3 linked regions of the Homo sapiens genome follow. The protein of the gene in region 3 interacts with the protein of the main gene of each other region in a pairwise test. Each region holds a gene or a part of one and is shown on either strand. Other genes may lie near its edges.

Region 1 (4,081 bases), on a different chromosome or scaffold from region 3:
ACTTGCAAAGGGTTGTATTCAGAACATTCCTACAAGTCAACAATAAAAGACAAACAGCTTAGTAGAATAAATGGTGAAAAATAGAAACAAAATTCACAGAAGGAACCTGAATGCCTAATAAAAATATAAATGGGAGTTCAACCTCACCATGACAAGGGAAATGCATGGGCAATCCAACTTTACACTCAGCATGACTGCAAACATTACAGAGTCCATTAAAATGGTGAGGAGCTGAGCAACAAGACCCACTCGCAGGAGGGGTACAGAGGATGCCCTGTGACCCCGCAACTCCACTCACAGGAAATGCCTAGGGAATCTCTCACACTTGAGAATGACTGCTGCATTGTTGTAATATTGAGAAATTGGGGCCAACCTAAGTACTCACCAACAGGATGTTGTTAAATAAACTGTGATATCTACTCAATGGAATATCACACCCCACCTAGGGGAGCAGAGGAGACTGTGTATGGACACAGACAGCTCATGAAGGTAAGGGAGAAAGAAAAGCAACTCACAAAGATACTGATTTATACGGTTTACAAATACACGTACAGTGAAAAATGACACCATCAAGCCAGGCACAGTGGTGCACACTTACAGTCCCAGCTACTTGGGAGGCTGAAGCAGGAGGATCACTTGAGCCCAGAGGTTTGAGTCCAGTCTGGGCAACACAGGAAAAACTCTGTCTCAAAAAAAAAAAAAACTTTTAAAATGACCATATCATGGAAAATTCTGGAGAGCAGTTATCTTGGGACAGAGATGAGGCAGTTGGCGGGGCGGGGCGGGGTGGGGGGGAACAGGGGACAGGGGTGGTCACAGGAGTCCTAGCTGCTCTGAAGTCGTGAGTGGGGACAGCAGAGCCTGTTCAGGAGGCTGCTGACTGTCCAGGGCTTTGCTGAGTGCCTGGCTCTGCCAATGGGAGGTTACCAGCAGGAGAGCCTGGAGTGTCGAGGAGTCACCACGGCCCTGCACTCAGTTAATGCTCTACTGTTGCTGTCTGGATATCACTTGACTTTTGGGTGTGGTTGGTGTTGCTTTAAGTTTCTGGGGATAGCAAAAGCTTAAGAAGTGACTCTTGCCATCACATGGCTGACCACCTCTGGTGAGAACACTGGAGAATAGTTTAGGGGTGCCCGAGTTTCCCCCACTGCATAGAGCCTGGTGCCAGGGAAGACAGGCTGGACCTGGCTGTGGCCCCTTGAATGGTGGCAGGGAGACCACAGCACATCGCAGGGCCCTGAGGATGACGTGTATTTGAGGGGGCAGGGTTCTCCAGTAGCAGGTGTTGCACAGTGGGGAATGGTGGGTGCAGAGCTGGGTTAGTTTTAGCAGAGGTGTGAAGGTGATTCCTCTCTGAGCTGGAGGTGGAAGCAAATGGGAAAACGGTCTGGCATAAACAGACAAGCCCCGGGGAGGCAGACAGCGTCCACCACTACCAGGTCCACCTGCTTTAGGTATACCTTCCTACCAGGACATGAGAGCCCACAGTGGCTGGGGTCTTGTCATCAGGCACCCTGAATGCTTTCAGGTGGATGGTTTGGATCTCTCCTCACCTGGCTGGTCAGGCCAGGGAGGACAAGCTGTGGACCTAACAGGTGACCACTGTCCAGACAAGGCCTATTCTACCTCCTTGCCTGGCTGTCCCCTCCTTAGGCCTGTTGCCCCTTCCTCTCTAGACCCTCTGCCTGCCAGGTGTGTAAGCCTTTCTGCCTGGACAGCCTCATTGAGACAGCCCTAGACTAACAGTCACCCATATTGAGCCCAAGCCCACCCTGCATGATGCCAAGCTTAGAAATGTCACCCTGGAGTCACAAAATCCCTTCTTTGCATTACCAAAAGAGGTGGTCACTCAGGGGTGCTGGAATCTTCCCCACCTTAAGGCTTAGCTCCAGTCTGTAGCCCATTCCCTGACAGGTACCTGGGTTTCCCAGCCTTTGATGACCCCAAACGCTGTCTCTTCCCTAAGGGTCACTGCCTTGGGATTTGCCTGCAGGCTAGGCACACCTGGTAAATGAGGTCTCCACACACTGGGTCATTAGTACCCACAAGCAATCACTGTTGAGTTCATGAACTCTCAGGCTGGAGCTCAGCAGTCCCACTAGGGACCACCACTGGGGTCACAAGATGGCCTTGATCCCCAGTTATCTGGATCCCCAGTTCCCTGAACCAGAGCAGCTTCCTAAACTCCCTAGTCCAGCAGAGGTTAGGGCTCGCTTTCCCTGCTAGAGGGGCCTCCTCCAAACCCCACAGTGCCCCAACAACACTTCCTGTCCTCTGGTAGACCCTTACCTGCCTGTGTCTTGCACAAAGTGCACACTGGGAGGCAAGAGCCTGTCTCTGCAGTAAGAAGGGCTTGGGGCAGTGCTCCGCTGGCAGGCAGACAAGGCAGGCAGGGCCCCAGCCCAATGCCTGAGTCAGCAGGCTCCTAACAGCCTGAGTGACCTCCTCATAGCATGGGGTCAGTGCAGCGGCAATGTCTGGGTTGTTGAGGGTTTTGATGGGTGATCAATGCTGGAGGATCCTCCCTCTGCCTTCCCCATCCAACACAGATCATCTCCAATGTGCCAGACCTGTGCTGGGCAACAAGGTTGGCTGAGATGGCCTGAGACAGGGTCCCTTGATGAACAGTCCACTGGGAATGGGGCCTGCAGTGGCCCTGGATGATTTCAGTATCTGCCACTCACCTTGGTCATGATGCCACAGAGAGTGTGGCATGGCCAGGACTGTACCTGGGGCAGATGGTCTTGCTCTTTGGTTCTGGGGAGGAGCGCAAAGTGACTGGGCTCAGGTGAAGGAGCTGTTGGCTTATGAGGAGGCTGCTCCAAGAAGCAAATAGGAGACAAGGAACCACTGGCCTGCAGATGGGGCAGGATCCTGGACCTGGGCCCCCCGAGTCACCAGCCACATGGCCTTGGGAGTGTTACTTACTCCTGTGATTGTAGCACAATGAGGGGTTAGACTACAAAGTCCCTCAGGCCCTGACCAGCTCTGGGGAAGAAGGCCTAGGACTGAGAGAGGCAGCAGGGAGGCTGGCCAGGGTCACCTCCCAGGTCCAGGCAGCTTTCCTGCAAGTGTTTCCTAAGCTGTCCTTCTCCAGGGAGAATAGCCTCAGCCCTGCCTGACAGGAGGCGGCATACACCTGAGCGCCTGACAGTACCCTCGTGAACCTGCCTGAGGGTGGCCACATTCCCACACCCCATGTGTGCCTATCTCCATCAGCACTGAGAAGACAGCAAACGCCAGCTTGCCAGGGGTTTACCCAGAAAGCCCAGCGCATACCCCCAGAGTGTTCTGGCAGACCTGTGCCAGCTGGGTTCAGTGACAGTTCATCCTGCCATGGGCTCTGGTCTCCCCATCACCCTCTGAGGGGGAAGCAGGAAGTTGTGAGGGGTAGCCGGGCCTGACCTCTCTTCCCTGGCACGATGCTGTCTCCCTGTGCAAAGTGGGGACTTCAGGCATTTGGTGTGGAGGAATGGGTGGTGGGATTGAAAACCCCTACCAGACCCCTGTCACACCAAGGAGCCCAGCGATGGGGGGGTTTCTTCCCTCCCTCTGAGGTAAGACCAATCTGTTAAACTTTCAGTACTAAAAAATAAAACCGAGTGGGAGGAAGGTGAGGACTGAAAAACTACATATCAGGTATCATGCTGATTACCTGGGTGACAAAATTATCTGTACACCAAACCCCTATGATCCAATTTACCCATGTAACAACCCTTGAACCTAAAGTTGGAAAGAAAAAAAAAGGTAAAATTAACAAATCCATATTAGTGTGAGCTGGGTGAGTAGTTTAGTCTGAAATGACAGAATATTCATTTTTCGTCTCTCTGAGATAGTGACCACACTGTCCTCACCAGGACTGGCAGGGGAAGCCCCAGGGCTTTGTGACCCTGTCCCTATGGGGCACCCTGGCGTCCAGTGGGCACTCCCCAGGGCAGCAGCCTGGTTTAAATGCCTGTTCCCCAGACCCCACAGTCAGACGGTAGAGAGGAGCCTCAGGGACATAGCCCAGTTCTTCAGGACCGTGGGCCACATGGGCTGCTTGACCTCTGACCACCAAGGAGGGAGTTTCTCAAGGACT
Region 2 (5,448 bases), on a different chromosome or scaffold from region 3:
TTTTTTTTCAAGTAAACACAAATATGTATATAGGACTTTCTTCTTCCTATCCAAATCAAACTTTTAAAGACAAAACTTGAGTTTTTAAAGGGTCATTTTAACACTTCTTTTTGAATTTTTTAATTTATATATAATTCACATACCATAAATTTCACACTCATAAAGTATGTACACTTTAAGTGGTATATTAACAAAGTTTTGGAACCTTCCCTGCTACCTGGTTCGAGAACATTTTCATCACCACAAAAAGAAAGTCAGTATCCATTAGTAGCCATCCCCCATTTTCCCCCCACAGGCCCCTCCCAACCACTAATCTCCTCTCGTTATGGACTTCTCAATTCTGGACATTTCATATAAATGGAATCATACAATATGTGGCCTTTTCATGGTTCATACATGTTGTAACCTGCATCAGCATGTCATTTCTTTTTTATGCCGGAATAATAGCCCACTGTACGGAAAGAAACACATTTTGTTCATTCATCTATCAGTTGATAGACATTGGGTTGCTTTCACTTTTGAGCTATGATGAGCAATGCTGCTATAAAATTTCTTGTATGTTTCTGTGTAGACATATGTTTTCATTTCTGTATACCTGGTGACTACCAAACCTATTTCTAAAACAGCTGCACCATTTTACTTTACCACCATCAGTGTTTAAGAGTTCAGTTTCTCCACATCCTCAGTAATACTTGTCATTGTCTGCCTTTTTGATGATGGCCATCCTGGTGGTATCTTGTCGTGGTTTTGATTTGCATTTCCTTAATGATGATTTGAGCATATTTCCATGTGCTTATTGGTGCCTCGTCTGTCTTCTTTTGAGAAATCTCTGTTCAGGTTCTTTGCCCACCCCCCCCGCCCTCTTTTTGCAAACTCTGCCTCCCGGATTCAAGCAATTCTCCTGCCTCAGCCTCTTGAGTAGCTGGGATTACAGGCGTGCACTACCACACCCGGCTAATTTTTCTTTTTTTGTATTTTTAGTGGAGACGGGGTTTCACCATGTTGGCCAGGCTGGTCTCGAATTCCTGACCTTGTGATGCACCCGCCTCGGCCTCCCAAAGTGCTGGAATTACAGGCGTGAGCCACCACACCTGGCCTTCACTTTCTTCATAGTTTTTTGAAACACAAAAGCTTTTCTTCTTGATAAGTCCAATTTTTCTATTTTTTTTTTAACGGTCACTTATGTTCTTAATGTTATACCTAAGAAACCATTACCTAATCCAACTACATGGAAACTACTTTGTTTTTGAAAACCTTATGAAATAATATAGTAGAAGAAATTGCATTCTCGATTTTGTCTTGGTAGGCTTTGGAAGTGATAAAGCAGTTAAAAGAGAAAATGAAGATAGAACGTGCTCACATGAGGCTTCGGTTCATCCTTCCAGTCAATGAAGGCAAGAAGCTGAAAGAAAAGCTCAAGCCACTGATCAAGGTCATAGAAAGTGAAGATTATGGCCAACAGTTAGAAATCGTAAGAGTCAAATATTTTCTTTGCTTCATGTTACCTAAATATTGTATTCTCTAGTAATAAATTTGTAGCAAACATTTAGATGTTGTAAACGTCAGATATTTTCTTTTCTTTTTTTTTTTTGAGATGGAGTCTCGCTCTGTTGCCCAGGCTGGAGTGCAGTGGTGCTATCTCAGCTCACTGCAAGCTCCGCCTCCCGGGTACACGCCATTCTCCTGCCTCAGCCTCCTGTGTAGCTGGGACTACAGGCACCCGCCACCAAGCCTGGCTAATTTTTCGTATTTTTTAGTAGAGACGGAGTTTCACCGTGTTAGCCAGGACGGTCTTGATCTCCTGACCTCATGATCCACCTGCCTCAGCCTCCCAAAGTGCAGGGATTACAGGCGTGAGCCACCGCGCCCAGCCAGATATTTTCTTAAGACTAAAGGTTGGTCAGCCTTGTTTACCACAAATCCTTTTATTTTTTTCCCAGCATTTATTTTTGTCATATATTATGCGTAGTGTTTTAGATACATGATTTTAGCAAATTTAGCAACTATTTAAAATAAGCCACTTAAAAATTGCTATTTTAGTGGAAGATTGATAATTCCAATTACCTTAAAAATTTTGCAAAAATTAGTACAAAGCACACTATGGAAATTTACATTGAGTTTTCAGAGATAGCTCAATTGCATGCTTTACTCCAGTGCTGATCATAATCCTAAAAGACAATCCCAAATGCCACAATCCCAATGTTGAAATCATAAAAAAATCAAAATCTCTAAAGTCCAAAGCCTGAACTTCTAATATCTTGAAAATCACAGTTCCAAAAGATTGAATCCTGGCTGGGCGCGGTGGCTCATGCCTGTAATCCCAGCACTTTGGGAGGCCAAGGCAGGTGGATCACCTGAGGTCGGGAGTTCGAGACCAGTCTGACCAACATGGAGAAACCCTGTCTCTACTAAAAATACAAAATAGTCTGGCGTGGTGGCACATGCCTGTAATCCCAGCTACTCGGGAGGCTGAGGCAGGAGAATCACTTGAACCTGGAAGGCAGAGGTTGCGGTGAGCCAAGATTGCACCATTGCACTCCAGCCTGGGCAACAAGAGCGAAACTCCATCTCAAAAAAAAAAAAAAAAGATTGAATTCTGAATGATGAAATTCTGAAAGCTGAATTCTGGCAAAAGGATTAGCACTCTTTGAGTTGTATGCAGGATAGTCGCGTCTGGTTAATTGCATCATGTGAGGAAAAGCTAGGACCTTGTTATTGTCTTCATTTGAAAATTAAAAATGGTTTAAAGAGATGAGTCTGGGTGCCAAGTTGATAAGGGGTGGAATTGTGGATGTAATTTTAGGTGTCAACTTGACTGGAAAGGAATCCCTAGAAGCCTGATAAAGCATTGTTTGGGGTATGTCTGTGAGGGTGTTTCCAGAGGATATTAGTGTGTGAACCTGGTGACACTAAACACAGAACATTTTAAAGAAGCAGCGAAACCATTATGTCCTTATGACCTCACCCCACAGCTTCAAACACAGTGTAAATTGAGCTGTCTACAAATTCATGTTTTCAAGGCTTTGCAGCTTATTTATTTATTTATTTATTTATTTATTTTTGAGACAGGGTTTCACTCTTATTGCCCAAGCTAGAGTGCAATGGCGTGATCTCAGCTCACTGCAACCTCTGCCTCCCGGGTTCAAGCGATTCTCCTGCCTCAGCCTCCCGAGTAGCTGGGATTACAGGCATGTGCCACCTCGCCCAGCTAATTTTGTATTTTTAGTAGAGACGGGGTCTCTCCATGTTGGTCAGGCTGGTCTCGAACTCCCGACCTCAGGTGATCCACCCGCCTCGGCCTCCCAAAGTGCTGGGATTACAGGCTTGAGCCACCGCGCCCTGTCTGCAGCTTCTTTTTAAAAGTAAATGAGCTGTAGAGAAGTGTTGAGTATGTGAGTATCCACTGTAGATGTGAACTAACTCATCTGACACTACTTGAAGTTCTAAAATCTTTGCAAAACTGTACACATGGGCCAGGCACAGTGGCTCGTGCCTGTAATCCCAGCACTTTGGGAGGCCAAGGTGAGCAGATAACATGGTGAAACCCTATCTCTACTAAAAATACAAAAAATAAGCCAGGTGTGGTGGTGGGTTCCTGTAATCCCAGTTTCTTGGGAGGCTGAGGCAGGAGAATCACTTGAACCTGGGAGGCGGAGGCTGCAGTGAGCCAAGATCACACCACTGCACTCTATCTCAAAAAAAAATAAATTAACATACACATGGTGTCTACATAAGTCTTCACATTGCTTTTTCTCCTTCATACGTGGAGGTGACTTTACTGAGCTATAAAATGTAATGCTAAATTTTAGTATGAGAAGAATCAGAGTTTTCTAGTTTGTCCCTTCCATTTACAGCTGAAGAATCAGAATAAGTGTTTAAACATAGGGATTAATGCCTTGTCACAGGGGGCTACATGGACACTTGAGGGCAGAGGCTAAACTGGAACCCAGTGTGCCGCCCTACCCATTGTCTTATCTATTGCACCATAGAACTGTGGTATTATTAGAGATCTGGACAGCATTGTGCTTGCCTCAAAGGAAGTTAAAGCTGAGTTTATTCTGTGTCTTGCTCATCCTCATGTGGTAATCTGCTACGTTAAATGTTTCAGGTATGTCTGATTGACCCGGGCTGCTTCCGAGAAATTGATGAGCTAATAAAAAAGGAAACTAAAGGCAAAGGTTCTTTGGAAGTACTCAATCTGAAAGATGTAGAAGAAGGAGATGAGAAATTTGAATGACACCCATCAATCTCTTCACCTCTAAAACACTAAAGTGTTTCCGTTTCCGACGGCACTGTTTCATGTCTGTGGTCTGCCAAATACTTGCTTAAACTATTTGACATTTTCTATCTTTGTGTTAACAGTGGACACAGCAAGGCTTTCCTACATAAGTATAATAATGTGGGAATGATTTGGTTTTAATTATAAACTGGGGTCTAAATCCTAAAGCAAAATTGAAACTCCAAGATGCAAAGTCCAGAGTGGCATTTTGCTACTCTGTCTCATGCCTTGATAGCTTTCCAAAATGAAAGTTACTTGAGGCAGCTCTTGTGGGTGAAAAGTTATTTGTACAGTAGAGTAAGATTATTAGGGGTATGTCTATACAACAAAAGGGGGGGTCTTTCCTAAAAAAGAAAACATATGATGCTTCATTTCTACTTAATGGAACTTGTGTTCTGAGGGTCATTATGGTATCGTAATGTAAAGCTTGGATGATGTTCCTGATTATCTGAGAAACAGATATAGAAAAATTGTGCCGGACTTACCTTTCATTGAACATGCTGCCATAACTTAGATTATTCTTGGTTAAAAAATAAAAGTCACTTATTTCTAATTCTTAAAGTTTATAATATATATTAATATAGCTAAAATTGTATGTAATCAATAAAACCACTCTTATGTTTATTAAACTATGGCTTGTGTTTCTAGACAACTTCCTAACTCCCTTTCTTTTCTCTGCCTGTGTCTGTGGTAGGGTTAGGGAGTTGTCAGGAGAACTGAATAAGTCCATATGAAGAGTGCTTAGAACAGGGCCTGTACTTGTAAACACCTGAAAAATTTTTGCTAACACTTGGGATGTAATTGGGAAGAATTATTTTAGTATTTAAACACTTAAATGGACAAGATGCAAGCTTTTAAAAATCTACTTCAAGGCCAGGGGAGGTGACTCACACCTGCAATCCCAACACTTTGGGAGGCCGAGGCAGGCGGATCACCTGAGGTCAGGAGTTTGAGACCAGCCTGACCCACATGGTGAAACCCTGTCTCTACTAAAAATACAAAAATTAGCCAGGCATGGTGGTGCACGCCTGTAGTCCCAGCTACTCGGGAGGCTGAAGCAGGAGAATCACTTGAACCCAGGAGGCAGAGGTTGCAATGAGCTGAGAATGTGCCACTGCACTCCAGTCTAGGTGACAGAGTGAAACTCGGTCTCCAAAAAAAAGAAAAAA
Region 3 (7,041 bases):
TGTGTTACTTTCCACAGCAGAGAGCTGAACTGTCACGCTTCTAAGGCACAGAGCATTTCACACACCAACATACATTTATATTTATCTTCAATAATCTGGCATAAACAGAAATCTCACCTGTAATTTTTCAAGTTTTTAAAATCTGTTTCAAATATTAGCTTCTTCTAACCGTGACTGTTTAATGAAAATTCAATTCACTATCAACTCTAATAACTAACTTCCCAAACTGCTGAAAAGAACAAGCCACACCGGATATGAAATAAAACTCTATAAAGAGAATTGAAATCATATGATGAAAATAAAGTCCATTGGGTAACGCAGTTACTATGTTGTTATCATTGTTGCTTTTTAAATACAGCATATGAAACAGGATCTCTTAACCTGTTTCTCCAGCTTGGGGATTAGAATGAATTTCCAGTGAGCTCATTTGAAAGCTGTAGCTCTTACAGTGAAGGACAGATTCTGTTCTTTAAGTCACAATTGAGCTACACTGATCAAAAAACCAAGTAGAAGTGCTTTTTAAAAGTCTTGAAAACGAAGGCTTCAGGAGGATGGGGTATCAGGAACGTGGACCTAAATCACTGTGTAAAAACTAGAAAGTGTACCATCAAGGAGAATCTGTCGCTCCTGTGTAGGCCAGCTGTGCTCAGGTGTTTACTTTTTTAATAAAACAGTAGTTTGAGTCTCTAGAGACATCTTGTCTATATTGCAGTACAACTGGTGAACACTAAGAGGCCAGGGCACCAGAATGTGCTAAAGGTACAATTCTGTCTGGCAATGACAGTTCCGGTCCAAAATGGGCCATCTTATGATCATTTAAAAAAAAAAAGACCGGGCCCAGTGGCTCACACCTGTAATCCCAGCACTTCGGGAGGCCGAGGCGGGCAGATCACAAGGTCAGGCGTTCAAGACCAGCCTGGCCAAGATGGTGAAACCCCGTCTCTACTAAAACTACAAAAATTAGCCAGGCGCGGTGGCAGGTGCCTGTAATCCCAGCTACTCAGGAGGCTGAGGCAGGAAAATCACTTGAACCAGGGTGACAGAGGTTGCAGTGAGCCGAGATCATGCCACTGCACTCCAGCCTGGGCGACTTCATCTCAAAAAAAAAAAAAAGAGGGTTTCAATGGGAGGAGGACAGAACACAAGTATTTCATCTCTTTCAAAGCAAACAGGCCTTCCCAAGCCCATCCCCCAGACCTTTCAAGTGGAAGAACCTATGAGATGTTCTTGGCAAGGAGCCCAAATGACTCCTTGGTTTAAATATTGGTAAAGGGCGGGGACGAGGGAGGATGCAGAATAAGAAAGAAAAGGAAAGAAAGCAGGAAACACCTTTATTTCCCTGCTGTGCTGAGTGAATCTTTTAGCAGACTTGCCGAAACAAGAAATGAGCCAGGTTTCTTTGTTTTTGTTTTTGTTTTTGTTTTTGTTTTGAAGACAGAGCTTCACTTTTGTTTCCCGGGCTGCAGTGCAGTGTGGCGATCTCGGCTCACTGCAACCTCCACCTCCCAAGTTCAAGTGATCCTCCTGCCTCAGCCTCCTGAGTAGCTGGAATTACAGGCGCCTGCCACTGCACGCGGCTAATTTTTGTATTTTTAGTAGAGACGGGGCGGTCTCACCATGTTGGCCAGGCTGGTCTTGAACTCCTGACCTCAGGTCATCCGCCCGCCTCAGCCTCCCATAGGGCTGGGATTACAGGCGTGAGCCGCCACGCCCAGCAAGAGCCAGGTTTTGTTGTTGTTTTTTGTTTGTTTTTCCTGCTCTGAGATAGGCAGCATGGTGGAAAGAGCATTGACTTCGGAGATGAAAGACCTGGATTTTAGACTCCTGGGGTAGCTACTTGCTATCTGAGTGATCAGGGGCACGCCACTTAGCCTCTGTGAAACTTGGTTCCCTCACCTGTAAACTAGAAGTGATAAGAGCCAGTCACCAGGTTAAATGAACCGATAAAAGGAAGTGCCTGGCACAGAAGCCGGCATAGGGTGGGTGGGTCCTGAATGCTAAATATTACTCTTCCTCGCCTCCCCTCCTGAGGTAGGTCATGCAAACATTCCTGGCCGGTCTCAAGTGACCCCAAACTGTGACTTCCAAGGTTCCCCCAAAGTGAGTCAAGGGGATCCCCTGATGTATGGCCTCAAACTCGAGCCTGCTGCCTGAAGTGGGACTGGAGGAGGGTGAGAGGTGAGGCGGGTACGCTGAGGGTCGGGGGGGCTCTCCAGCTCCCCATCCTGCCGTCAGACAGACACTGCTCCGGGCACGATCCTGCGGATGTGGGTGTACGACTTCCTGATGGTGACGCTGCCGTGGTGCGACACGCCCCGGGGCAGGACGCACTCCTCTGTCAGTTTCTGGGCCTCGGGGTCCCAGCACAGCACCGTGGCGATAACCTCGTTCTTCTCGTCCCGCCCGCCGGTGATGTAGAGCCGGTTGTTGCAGGGCGCGATACCGCAGCTGGCCCGCTCGTGGCTGAGCTGGGTCACCAGGCACCAGCTGTCTTCCAGCGGGCTGTAGGCGTACAGCGCTCTCATGGCCCCACCTGAGGAGAGGGAGGAAACACGGTGGGCATCGCTCCATTTTTCTGGTTTCTTCCCTCTTAACCACTAAAATTCAACTTCTGATTAGGCCAAGTCTACCCTCTTGCCAAGAGAAACAGTCGATTGATGGCTCTCCTGAAAGCCAGAGTGGGTCCTAGGGGCAGTGAGTTGCCAGCGCTGGAGACACCGCGACACACCGTTTACGTGCTGCAGCCAGGCGCTCATCAGGTTCTAAGCCATTCAGACCAATAAGAAGCCATTACTCACCAACGACATAGATGCGGTCCCGGAAACTCACTGCATTGATGCATTTAGCCTCCACGGGCATGGCCGCCTTCAAACTCCACTTGTTGGTGGAAGGGTCATAACACTGAGTCTTGTCTGTGGCCAGTTTCCCATTGGGCCCTCCCCCGATCACATACAGCTTCTTCTTATGGCTGGTGGCTGCAAAGGAACTGACATGGACAAGGAGGGGTGCGGCCTGTAGAGGCACAGGGCACAAGAAGAAGCTGTCAGTCATGCTGCCCAGATTGCTGCAGTAGCTCCCAGGATACAGGACAGAGCTCCGGGACACAGAACTGGGCATCTTTTGCCTATAGTCACAAGGCCCATGGGCTTGACTCCTCTTAAGACACAGCAAGAATGAAAGCATGCATTTCCCACCCTCCCTCCAGGCTCCACGCAAGCTAGAGCAAGCTGTGTGTTGGGATGTGCCAGCCTCTCCCGGAATCCAGCTCTCAGGCAAGAATAAGTTTATACAGATGAAGTCAGCCAGTGTGGGAGGAAAATGATGTTTTATACATGCATATTCATATTCATTCATGTGCTCATCCACTCGAAAAATATTTATGGAATGCCTACTATGTACCAGCATTGATTTTCCTTGGTGCTTATATCTAGGAAGAAAAGCTGAAACGGTGGCCACAGGTAAGCAGACTCTTCCATTATGGGGCAGCATTGAGGATTTTGAGATTAAGTCAGACGTGTGCTTCTATCCTGTGAACCCCAGGACAGTAAAGGAGACTTCCAAGAGCCTCTTGCCCATTTATTTACAGGATCCTTTTAGATCGTGGAGCAGCTCTGTGATAGGGCTTGTTTTGAGAAGATCCTGGGCATGTCCCCCATACATGTTAAGGGCTCTCAATATAGCACTTTTCAGGCTGACAGTCTTGGCTAGATGTGGTGACCTGGCTACCTTTGCTTGTGCCTACAATGACTGTGTTGTACATTCCATTAAGCTGGAACATGCTTGGACATCTGATCTGATAAGGAGAAAGAAAATTTGAAACTGGGAATAACCTGGAAATGAGATGAGGTGGCTTTTCTTTTCCTGGGTCTGATATATACCTGAGGTTGCATTACTAAAGTCTGACATGCAGGCCTGTAAGTGGCTCATCATCCATGGGAAAATAAAGAAGGGATGATTTCTAACATGACCAAATCACTCTGGGTTCATAAACGGTGTAGTAAAGTGATCCGCATGTGTCCAGTGTGGAGAAGAATAGGAGAGAAGGCATCTGAGGAGACAAGACTCTACACCAAGACATGCAGACCAAGAGATCTCCCATCTAAGGACAGGGTGAGCCTCTGTGCACATCTGGGGTTCTGTCCAAATTAGGACAGGTGCCCACACAGACCTTCACCACTTGGAAGGACATTGTTTCTGTGACTTGATCAGCAATACTGAAGCAATAGCTCCTAGGAGGAGGGAAGCTCAGAGCCACCAAAACTGTTCTCCTTGGAAGTAAAGTGATCAGAAAGCTGACCACCACGGCAGGCACGTTCCAAAGCTTTTTAAAAAAGCACTGAAGTAATAATACAGGCAGTTACTGGTAGAAATCGTGTCCTATACCTCTGACCAGCAGTTGTGAAAGGGGTCGTAGGTCTCCACATTGTTGATTCTCTGTAAGCCGTCAAAGCCTCCGATCACATAGACCTTGCCACCCAACACCACCATCTTATGCCTCCAGCGGCCTATGTTTAAATACTCAATCTGAATCCACTTGTTGATCGAAGAATTATATTTCCAAACATCATGCTGTGTTTCTTTGCCACCTGCAAGAGATACAAAGCATTTAAGAAACCATCAGATGTGTCAGAAATACAGCTTCTCCCATAATATCCCACATGTCCAAAAGTGCCAGGTCCCCAGGCCAGCCCTACCCTGAGGGGAGATACAAGAAACCCAGCAGGTGTGTGATGTCTGGCAGGGGAGATGAGGCAAATGCAGGGGAACAGGGAGAGACAGAATGGATGATGTGCCACACTGTGTCATGTCCACCTCAGTGCTGCGAGAGTTCAGAGAAGAGGTGGCTAAGTGAGCAGTGCCCTGAGAAGGCTTCAGGGGGCAGGACCCAAGCCAGCCTGGGTGGGTAGGGACCAGAGGGAGCCTGGACTCAGTGTTTGCCCTCACAGGGAGCAGGAAGCAAGGCTGGGCGGGGACAGTGGGGTTTGTGCAGAAGGCAAATTACATGGCAGCTTAAATTCTATGTTTACTTTTTATTTAAACCAAAAAGCAAAGATACAGACCTGGAAAAATCACTAAGAAATCCTACAACATTCTCCTGGTTTGTCGCTCTGATCTGTTTAAAACAATCAGTGGGATTTATCCTATTTCTAAATAATTTTTGTTATAAAAGTATGAGATGCTCACAATAGATCATTTGAGAGTGATCTGGTAAACATTTTCTTGAAGGCAACTCTCTTAAAAAACAGAAAATACAAAATTCAGCAGCTGGGGAAAGAGACAAAGACAAAGGAGAACTGACTTTTTGGGTGATTTTAATCAAATATTTAACAGCTTTGTGTTTCCATTTTCCCATCAGCATAGACTACCACCAACTACTTAAAGCAAAGATTTACTTTTCAGACTTACATGTGTGCAATAGTGGAGAAATGAACATTACTGACCACATTCTGTGTCAGGGGTGTTTCTCTAGCATGGAACCCAGAAGTGGGTTTACTAAGTCAAAGCCATGTGCACCCTGAATTTTTATAGGTGCAGCCAAGGCATCCTCCGCAGCTGTGGTGGTTGACTTTTCCTCATACCCACTTTTTGTTGGTGGTGGTGGTTTTGTTTTCTTTCTTTTATTTATTTATTTTTTTGAAGTCTGACGGAAAAAAACTATGTCAGTTTGGTTTTCGCTTACTATGAGGGAAGCTGAGCTTCCTCTTCCTTGAATCTTTTGTTCATATAGTTTGGCTATTTTCCTTTGGGTGGGGTACCTTTCAGAGGTCTCCATTTATTCAAAACATTGATCCCATTTAGGTAGCATCAAAAAGTATAAAATAAATGTAAATTTTCAAAGAAATGTATGCAACCTTTATTAAAACCTATGATTTTATTTTAGGACAAAAAAAAAAAACCCTGAGAAAGCATATTGTGTGCATAAATCAGAAGACACCTTATTGTGAAGATGTCAACCCTCCCTAGGTTAATCTATATACTCAGTGCCTTCAAGACTTTTGAGGGGAACTTGATGAGATAATTCTAAATTTCACTGGGAAGAGTAAGTTTGGAAAAATTTCTAAGAAACTTTTGAAAAAGAAAAGGGAAGAAGGAGGCTTTCCTTATCAAATATTAAAATATACTATAAAGCTATCCTAATACAAACAGTGCAGTACTAGACAAACTGATCAGTTAAAAACAAGAGCACAGAAACGGACTAAAATATATACAGATCATTAAATAAATGTTATTAGAACAATTGGTTATTCATTTGGATAAAGATTAAGTTAGATACTTATTTTACATTACATTTAAAATAAAATTCAAATGTTACTGCTACAGAAGTAACTGGAAAATGTATAGGATATTATGTTAATGACCTTGGGGTTAGGAGGGGTTTTCTAAGCATGACATGAATGTAGAATTGTATAGGACAGAAAACAAGTATATAAAGGTAAAAAACAACCACAGTCTAGGAGAAAATATTTGCAACACAAATAGCAAAGGATATATAAGAAGAGTTCCAAAAAATTAGTAAGAACAAGACAAAAACTGATAGGAAGTGTCAAAGAGTATGAACAGATAATTTTTAAAAATAAATACAATTATCTGGTAAATATATATTTACCATTCTAGTCTATTAAAAATTTAAATGACTAATAATAAAAATCGTTAGCAAGGATATAGAAAATGAGCACTGTCATTCATCACTGATTGAACTGTAAATTGGTACAACTTTTCTGTAGGAAAATTTCACAATATATACAAAATTCTTAATTCACATATGACCACTTCCAGGAAACTTTCCAAGTAGCAGCACAAGTATGAAAAAATATGTGTCTAAGAATGCCTACTGCAATATTTTTTAAGGAGACCAAAAAAAGAAAGCTAAAAAAATTATGGTTTATCCATTTGGTAGACTGCCATATAGCTGGTAAAAAGAATAACAGTAGTGATAATACTGGCCAACATAATTAAGCTCCCACCATGTGCTTTGCATGTAATAACTATATCACTTGATATGTATATCCATTAAACCAACATGTCATCATGTCCAGATGA

The links. Proteins that work in one complex are often made in the same cells at the same time.
Region 1: the proteins of KLHL6 (region 3) and NUDCD3 interact in binary tests that used the Homo sapiens proteins (3 or more experiments, as listed by UniProt).
Region 2: the proteins of KLHL6 (region 3) and SBDS interact in binary tests that used the Homo sapiens proteins (3 or more experiments, as listed by UniProt).

What each region holds. Positions count from the first base shown.
Region 1 is NC_000007.14:44,378,599-44,382,679, forward strand, and holds the end of NUDCD3 (nudC domain-containing protein 3), read right to left. Parts: 3' UTR 521-4,081; downstream 1-520.
Region 2 is NC_000007.14:66,987,160-66,992,607, reverse strand, and holds the end of SBDS (ribosome maturation protein SBDS), read left to right. Parts: intron 1-1,306; coding exon 1,307-1,471; intron 1,472-4,108; coding exon 4,109-4,237; 3' UTR 4,238-4,928; downstream 4,929-5,448. UniProt on the Homo sapiens protein: Required for the assembly of mature ribosomes and ribosome biogenesis.
Region 3 is NC_000003.12:183,489,696-183,496,736, forward strand, and holds part of KLHL6 (kelch-like protein 6), read right to left. Parts: intron 4,587-7,041; coding exon 4,384-4,586; exon of another isoform or gene 3,013-4,383; coding exon 2,799-3,012; exon of another isoform or gene 2,534-2,798; coding exon 2,232-2,533; 3' UTR 1-2,231. UniProt on the Homo sapiens protein: Involved in B-lymphocyte antigen receptor signaling and germinal center formation.